Linked DNA regions of Homo sapiens. The protein of the gene in region 1 interacts with the protein of each later gene in a pairwise test. Each region holds a gene or a part of one and is shown on either strand. Other genes may lie near its edges.

Region 1 (3,817 bases):
TCAGCTTTGAAGCCAGGCGTTGACCTCTCTAGCTGTGCAAGTCCTAGAGGGCATCTTTGTCCTATAGAAGTCTGTTTTCATCTATACTGAAAATCCATTGTTAAATGTGGCCACCTTCATGAATTATCCTAGCTAGAGCAGCTTCTAGATAACTTGCTGTACCTTCCTGTTACACCTTGCACTTTTATGTTATGGAGATGGTTTATTTTTTAAACCTCATGAACTGACCTCTATTAGCTTCAACCTGTTCTTTTTTTATTTTATTTTATTTTTGTATTGTTATACTTTAAGTTTTAGGGTACATGTGCACAACATGCAGGTTTGTTACATACGTATACATGTGCCATGTTGGTGTGCTGCACCCATTAACTCGTCATTTAACATTAGGTATATCTCCTAATGCTATCCGTCCCCCCTCCTCCCACCCCACCACAGTCCCCAGAGTGTGATGTTCCCCTTCCTGTGTCCATGTGTTCTCATTGTTCAATTCCCACCTATGAGTGAGAACATGCGGTGTTTGGTTTTCTGTCCTTGCGATAGTTTGCTGAGAATGATGGTTTCCAGCTTCATCCATGTCCCTACAAAGGACATGAACTCATCATTTTTTATGGCTGCATAGTATTCCATGGTGTATATGTGCCACATTTTCTTAATCCAGTCTATCATTGTTGGACATTTGGGTTGGTTCCAAGTCTTTGCTATTGTGAATAATGCCACAATAAATATATGTGTGCATGTGTCTTTATAGCAGCATGATTTATAATCCTTTGGGCATATACCCAGTAATGGGATGGCTGGGTCAAATGGTATTTCTACTTCTAGATCCTTGAGGAATCGCCACACTGACTTCCACAATGGTTGAACTAGTTTACAGTCCCACCAACAGTGTAAAAGTGTTCCTGTTTCTCCACATCCTCTCCAGCACCTGTTGTTTCCTGACTTTTTACTGATTGCCATTCTAACTGGTATGAGGTGGTATCTCATTGTGGTTTTGATTTGCATTTCTCTGATGGCCAGTGATGATGAGCATTTTTTCATGTGTTTTTTGGCTGCATAAATATCTTCTTTTGAGAAGTGTCTGTTCATATCCTTCGCCCACTTTTTGATAGGGTTGTTTTTTTCTTGTAAATTTGTTTTGAGTTCATTGCAGATTCTGGATATTAGCCCTTTGTCAGATGAGTAGGTTGCAAAAATTTTCTCCCATTCTGTAGGTTGCCTGTTCACTCTGACGGTGGTTTCTTTTGCTGTGCAGAAGCTCTTTAGTTTAATTAGATCCCGTTTGTCAATTTTGGCTTTTGTTGCCATTGCTTTTGGTGTTTTAGACATGAAGTCCTTGCCCCATGCCTATGTCCTGAATGGTATTGCCTAGGTTTTCTTCTAGGGTTTTTATGGTTTTAGGTCTAACATGTAAGTCTTTAATCCATCTTGAATTAATTTTTGTATAAGGTGTAAGGAAGGGATCCAGTTTCAGCTTTCTACATATGGCTAGCCAGTTTTCCCAGCACCATTTATTAAATAGGGAATCCTTTCCCCATTTCTTCTTTTTGTCAGGTTTGTCAAAGATCAGATAGTTGTAGATACGCGGCATTATTTCTGAGGGCTCTGTTCTGTTCCATCGGTCTATATCTCTGTTTTGGTACCAGTACCATGCTGTTTTGGTTACTGTAGCCCTGTAGTATAGTTTGAAGTCAGGTAGCGTGATGCCTCCAGCTTTGTTCTTTTGGCTTAGGATTGACTTGGCGATGCGGGCTCTTTTTTGGTTCCATATGAACTTTTAAGTAGTTTTTTCCAATTCTGTGAAGAAAGTCATTGGTAGCTTGATGGGGATGGCATTAAATCTATAAATTACCTTGGGTAGTATGGCCATTTGCACAATATTGATTCTTCCTACCCATGAGCATGGAATGTTCTTCCATTTGTTTGTATCCTCTTTTATTTCATTGAGCAGTGGTTTGTAGTTCTCCTTGAAGAGGTCCTTCACATCCCTTGTAAGTTGGATTCCTAGGTATTTTATTCTCTTTGAAGCAATTGTGAATGGGAGTTCACTCATGATTTGGCTCTCTGTTTGTCTGTTGTTGGTGTATAAGAATGCTTGTGATTTTTGTACATTGATTTTGTATCCTGAGACTTTGCTGAAGTTGCCTATCAGCTTAAGGAGATTTTGAGCTGAGACGATGGGGTTTTCTAGATTTACAATCATGTCCTCTGCAAACAGGGACAATTTGACTTCCTCTTTTCCTAATTGAATGCCCTTTATTTCCTTCTTCTGCCTGATTGCCCTGGCCAAAGCTTCCAACACTATGTTGAATAGGAGTGGTGAGAGAGGGCATCCCTGTCTTGTGCCAGTTTTCAAAGGGAATGCTTCCAGTTTTTGTCCATTCAGTATGATATTGGCTATGGGTTTGTCATAGATAGCTCTTATTATTTTGAGATACGTCCCGTCAATACCTAATTTATTGAGAGTTTTTAGCATGAAGGTTGTTGAATTTTGTCAAAGGCCTTTTCTGCATCTATTGAGATAATCTTGTGGTTTTTGTCTTTGTTTCTGTTTATATGCTGGATTACGTTTATTGATTTGCATATGTTGAACCAGCCTTGCATCCCAGGGATGAAGCCCACTGGATCATGGTGGATAAGCTTTTTGATGTGCTGCTGGATTCAGTTTGCCAGTATTTTATTGAGGATTTTTGCATCAATGTTCATCAAGGATATTGGTCTAAAATTCTCTTTTTTGGTTGTGTCTCTGCCGGGCTTTGGTATCAGAATGATGCTGGCCTCATAAAATGAGTTAGGGAGGATTCCCTCTTTTTCTATTGATTGGAATAGTTTCAGAAGGAATGGTACCAGCTCCTCCTTGTACCTCTGGTAGAATTCGGCTGTGAATCCATCTGGTCCTGGACTTTTTTTGGTTGGTAAGCTATTAATTATTGCCTCAATTTCAGCACCTGTTATTGGTCTATTCAGAGATTCAACTTCTTTCTGGTTTAGTCTTGGGAGAGTGTATGTGTCGAGGAATTTTTCCATTTCTTCTAGATTTTCTAGTTTATTTGCATAGAGGTGTTTATAGTATTCTCTGATGGTAGTTTGTATTTCTGTGGGATCAGTGGTGATATCCCGTTTGTCATTTTTTATTGGGTCTATGTGATTCTTCTCTCTTTTCTTCTTTATTAGTCTTACTAGCGGTCTATCAATTTTGTTGATCTTTTCAAAAAACCAGCTCCTGGATTCATTGATTTTTTTGAAGGGCTTTTTGTGTCTCTATTTCCTTCAGTTCTGCTCTGATCTTAGTTGTTTCTTGCCTTCTGCTAGCTTTTGAATGTGTTTGCTTTTGCTTCTCTAGTTCTTTTAATTGTGATGTTAGGGTGTCAATTTTAGATCTTCCCTCCTTTCTCTTGTGGGCATTTAGTGCTATAAATTTCCCTCTACACACTGCTTTGAATGTGTCCCAGAGATTCTGGTATGCTGTGTCTTTGTTCTCGTTGGTTTCAAAGAACCTCTTTATTTCTGCCTTCATTTCGTTATGTACCCAGTAGTCATTCAGGAGCAGGTTGTTCAGTTTCCATGTAGTTGAGCGCTTTTGAGTGAGTTTCTTAATCCTGAGTTCTAGTTTGATTGCACTGTGGTCTGAGAGACAGTTTGTTATAATTTCTGTTCTTTTACATTTGCTGAGGAGTGCTTTACTTCCAAGTATGTGGTCAATTTTGGAATAGGTGTGGTGTGGTGCTTAAAAGAATGTGTATTCTGTTGATTTGGGGTGGAGAGTTCTGTAGATGTCTGTTAGGTCCACTTGGTGCAGAGTTGAGTTCAATTCCTGGAT
Region 2 (4,553 bases), on another chromosome or scaffold:
TCAAATAATTAAGCAAACAAATGAAGAAGTGTCAGGGGTGTTTTAACGTTAAGTTCTGCAAAATTCCCTGCTATTGGGGAGGTCATACCCTTTGAATATATCACTCTCTTTCCATCCTCATTAGTGTCATAGGGCAACTCCAGGGACTGATTCTAACATTTAAACGGAAAATTTGAGGCCCACTTTATCCTTTCCGATAGGATTTGGGAGTTTCTACCCTTGACTGTGTTAGAAGTGTTCCTGAATTTTATTCCTGTAAAAGACATAGATGGGGCCAGGTGCAATGGCTCACTAGCACTTTGGCAGGCCAAGGCTGGACGATCTCTTGAGCCCAGGAGTTGAAGGCTGCAGTGAGCTATGATGGCACCACTGCACTCTAGTCTGGGCAACAGAGTGAGACCCTAAAACAAAACGTAAAAAGATACAGATGGGTCCTTCAATCATTTGGCCTTCAGGCTACCTGCAATGTTCCCAGAGACAGAGTTCTTTCGCTAGTCCAAGACTTTTCCAAACCAACCTGGTGGGGGTGTGGAGGTTGCGGGAGAGGACAGAGTTGAGGGGTAGTATAAGATGGGCCAAGACCAGAGTCCCATCTCTGCTTCAGAAAGCTTGGGTCCACATTGAGTGTGGGGAGGCCATATCTCATGGATAGAGACTAGATCTGTCTAGTGAATTACACTCACCCCACAAATAAGACCCATCATGGAGAAGAACGTTAGGGGGAGGAATAAATAAATGAGTTAATAAGGTGCCTGAAAGGTGGAGTAAATGAGTAACAGAGGGACAGAGAGAGGGATGCTCAGAGGAAAGAAAGAAGCATGATTCTTTTAATGCAATTTATATTTTAAGTTTCCTTGCTGAAAACTCGTTATGGGCTCCCCAGCTGCCCCCAAATCCATACTCAAGAGAAGATACAAGATCCCCTATGGTTTAGGCTCTGCCAAGTTCTTCACTGTCATCCATTGCTGTCTCAACTGGAAGAGGTTGAACCGAGATGGGCGGGTGAAGGGCTTAACTCCCATCATCCCAAACTCCTAGCAGGATGCCTCCTGCTGCACTCCGGGTCTCACTGGAAGCCGTCCACGCACAGGGCACCTCCTTCACCTTCCAGTTTGAATCATCTTACCAACTTATTTTTCTCTCAGCGCCTTGTTTATTTACTCATTGATCCCAAGTGACATTTTTGAACATTTTATCCATTTTCAGTTCGCTCCACTTTCTTTTGTTTTCTTCCACTCTCTGGAGTCAAGGATCAGTCTTTTTTTTTTTTTTTTTTTTTAAACATAGTTTTATTCCCAGTGCCCTACACAGCATCAGGCATATAATAGGTTCTAAATAAACAGATATTGAATGGATTATTGGAGGGCGTGGTATTAGGGTAGGACAGGGTGGGGACATGATTACATTAAAATTCTGCTTAAATAAGCGGGTCTTTTAGCCCAGCAGTCACATAGACTCAGCTCAGGAGCTCTGCAGCACACAGCTGATCGAACCCACTCATTTCTAGAGGACACCATGTTTGGTAAGTTGGGCGAAGGCAAGAGGCTGGGGTTTCAGTGATTGGGTTGCAGACAAATCAAGTGAGAGGTGTGGGACCTTGTGGTGGCTTCTTAGAAACCACTGGGTAAATTTAGAAACCACTGGGTTATACCAACAAGGATTGTTTGAAAAACACTTTGCAAGGGATTCTAGTAACTTAGGAATTTGTTTCTCCACATCTCTTTTTTAAAGAGATGGGGTCTTGGTATGTTGCCCAGGCTGGCCTCGAGCTCCTAGGCCCTAGTGATCCTCCCACCTCACCCTCAGGAGTAGCTGGGACTTATAAGTGTGTGCCACCATGTCCCGCTAATTTTTAAATTTTTTGTAGAGACAGGATCTCACTCTGTTGCCTAAGGTCGTCTTGAACTCACATCCTTTTTAATGCCTGGTAACTTTCATACTTTTTAAATGTCAGTCCATTGATGGGTATAAAATAGTATGTGATCTTTAATTCCCATTTCTTTACTAACCCGTGTGATTGAATCTGTTCACTCTATTTTAAAGGCCATTCTGTTTTTCCCCTATGCTAATTTTTATATTTATATCATTTCCCAGTTTTTAGTATGTTTTTTTTCTTGAGGCTTAGTAGAATATTTTTGTTGTCTTCTAGACACTAATAATTTATCTCTTATATGTGTTGCAAATATATTCTCCCAGCCTGGCTTGTGTTTTTCAATTTACTTATGAGTACCGTTGTACAAATATTCTAAAAGTTGTCATTGTGATATTTATCAACATTTTCCTTTTATAATTGTACTTGTAAAACGTAGTTTAGAAGTATATTACTGGCTGGGCATGGTGGCTCACACCTGTAATTCCAACACTTTCAGATGCCAAGGCAGGCGGATCTCTTGAGGCCAGGAGTTCAAGACCAGCCTGGACAACATGGCAAAACCCTGTCACTACTAAAAATACAAAAATTAGCCAGGCATGGTGGCATGTGCCTGTGGTTCCAGCTACTTGGGAGGCTGAGACACAAGAATTGCTTGAACCTGGGAGGCAGAGGTTGCAGCAATCTGAGATTGCACCGCTGTACTCCAGCTTGGGCAACAGAGCAAGACTCTGTCTCAAAAACAAAAAAAGTGTATTTCTTGGCTGGGGACATAAATGTAATTTTAGTTACATTTTATTTTAACTTCTTAAAATGATTTGATTCTAATAGAAAAATTATGCATCAACAAGCTCACTTATCAAAACTTGTACCTGGCTCTTCTAATACATTTTCCTATTGTTTAATACTAAACTTACAAAAATACTAATTAGTCGATTTTACATATTGACCTCTCAGCTTGGTAGATGATTTTAAACTCAAAGCCACATCCTTCCTCGATTTTACCTCCTATAACTTATCAATGTGCAGTGTTGCTTTTCTAAAGACCAGTAGAATTCTAATTACCATTCCTTTGATGGAAATTCTACTTCCCTTTAGAAGCTTCTGGAAATTTCTATATATTCCTGGTATTCTGATATTTTTGCAACAACGATCCTTTTGTTCATTTATTGTGCTCATCGTGGAATGTCTTCATTCTGGAAACCCCTGTGCCTCATCTCTCAAATCTTGAATTTTTTTTAATAAATACTTTCATGATACTCTCTGAAACATTTTTTAGTCAGAGATATTTTTAGTCACATAAATATTGCTAGTGCTGGACATCCCTGAGCAGAGATCTTATTTTTTTCCGACCTTTTCACTCTTTTTGTCCACTTTTGTATACTTTTTCTACTTCCTGGAATAGCTTTGTCTTCCAACTCTTCTATTATTGCCTAAGGGTTTCTTTTTAGCTACTGATTTCAAAGAACATTTGTCTTATCAGATTTTCCTTTCTTTTCAAGACTTTCTTGATGTATGAGTGCAATATCTTTTATCCGAGCATATTAATTTTAACATTTATAGATTTTCTTTTTTTTTGTAATTTTTTTCTAATTGTTTTATATTTTTAGTAGAGATGGGGTTTCACCATGTTGGCCAGGCTGGTTTTGAACTCCTGATCTCAAGTGATTCACCCTCCCTGGCCTCCCAAAGTGCTAGTATTACAGGCATGAGCCACCGTGCCCAGCCTTATTTCTTTTCTTAAGAAAAAATGTGGTTATTTGCTGCTTTCCTCCTCTTCTTTCTTTTTCTCTTCCACTTTCCCTTTCTTTTTTCTCTCTTTCTCTCTGTCTCTCCCTCTCTCCCTTTCTTGCTGTCCCCTTCCTGTTTGAGAATTTTTCTTCAATGTCCTGTAAATTTTTGTTCTCCCTTTGTGTCTAAACAAATGCTGAGACACTAAGAGAAACCCATGTGCCCGATCACTTGTCTTCACTGTGCGATAATTGGGCAGCATGTTGGCTTCTGTTTTTCCATGTATTTGCATGAGGAATAAGAGCATCCTGAAAATAGAAACTTTCCTATAAAATAGATGACCATGAGAATCAGGTTTTACTAGATGATGAGGTCTTATTTATATTCTAAACCATAGTAAAAACTCCCATTATGCACTAATACAGTTTGCATATTTGTCCCCTCCAAATCTCATGTTGAAATGTGATCCCCAGTGTTGGAGGTGGGCCTGGTGGAAGGGGTTTGGATCATGAGAGCAGATCCCTCTGAATGGCTTAGTGCCATCCTCATGGTAATGAGTGGGTTCTCTATCTCTAAGTTCACCTGAGATCTGGTTGTTTAAAAGAGTCTGGGACCTTCCCCTGCTGTCTCTTGCTCCCACTCTCACCATGTAACACCTTGGCTCCCCTTCGCCTTCTGTCATGAGTGGAAGCTTCCTAAGGCCCTCACCAGAAGCAGATGCCAGCACTATGCTTTGTGTATAGCCTGCAGAGCTGTGAACCAATTAATTCCTCTTTTCTAATTTACCCAGTTTTAGGTAATTCTTTATAAATGCAAAATGGACTAACACATGCACCAAGCCTGTAATTAACAGACTTGCTTCTTTGGTTACTCACATCTTCCCTAAAGGAGTGAGCTTTCTGGGACCATGTTATTGTTAAAGATACGGAGGCAAACAGTATAAGTGTACTGA

Evidence for each region.
Region 2: the proteins of FAM24B (region 1) and LEUTX interact in binary tests that used the Homo sapiens proteins (3 or more experiments, as listed by UniProt).

The regions. Positions count from the first base shown.
Region 1 is NC_000010.11:122,869,398-122,873,214, reverse strand, and holds part of FAM24B (protein FAM24B precursor), read left to right. Parts: intron 1-3,817.
Region 2 is NC_000019.10:39,777,406-39,781,958, forward strand, and holds the start of LEUTX (paired-like homeodomain transcription factor LEUTX), read left to right. Parts: upstream 1-1,448; 5' UTR 1,449-1,515; coding exon 1,516-1,522; intron 1,523-4,553.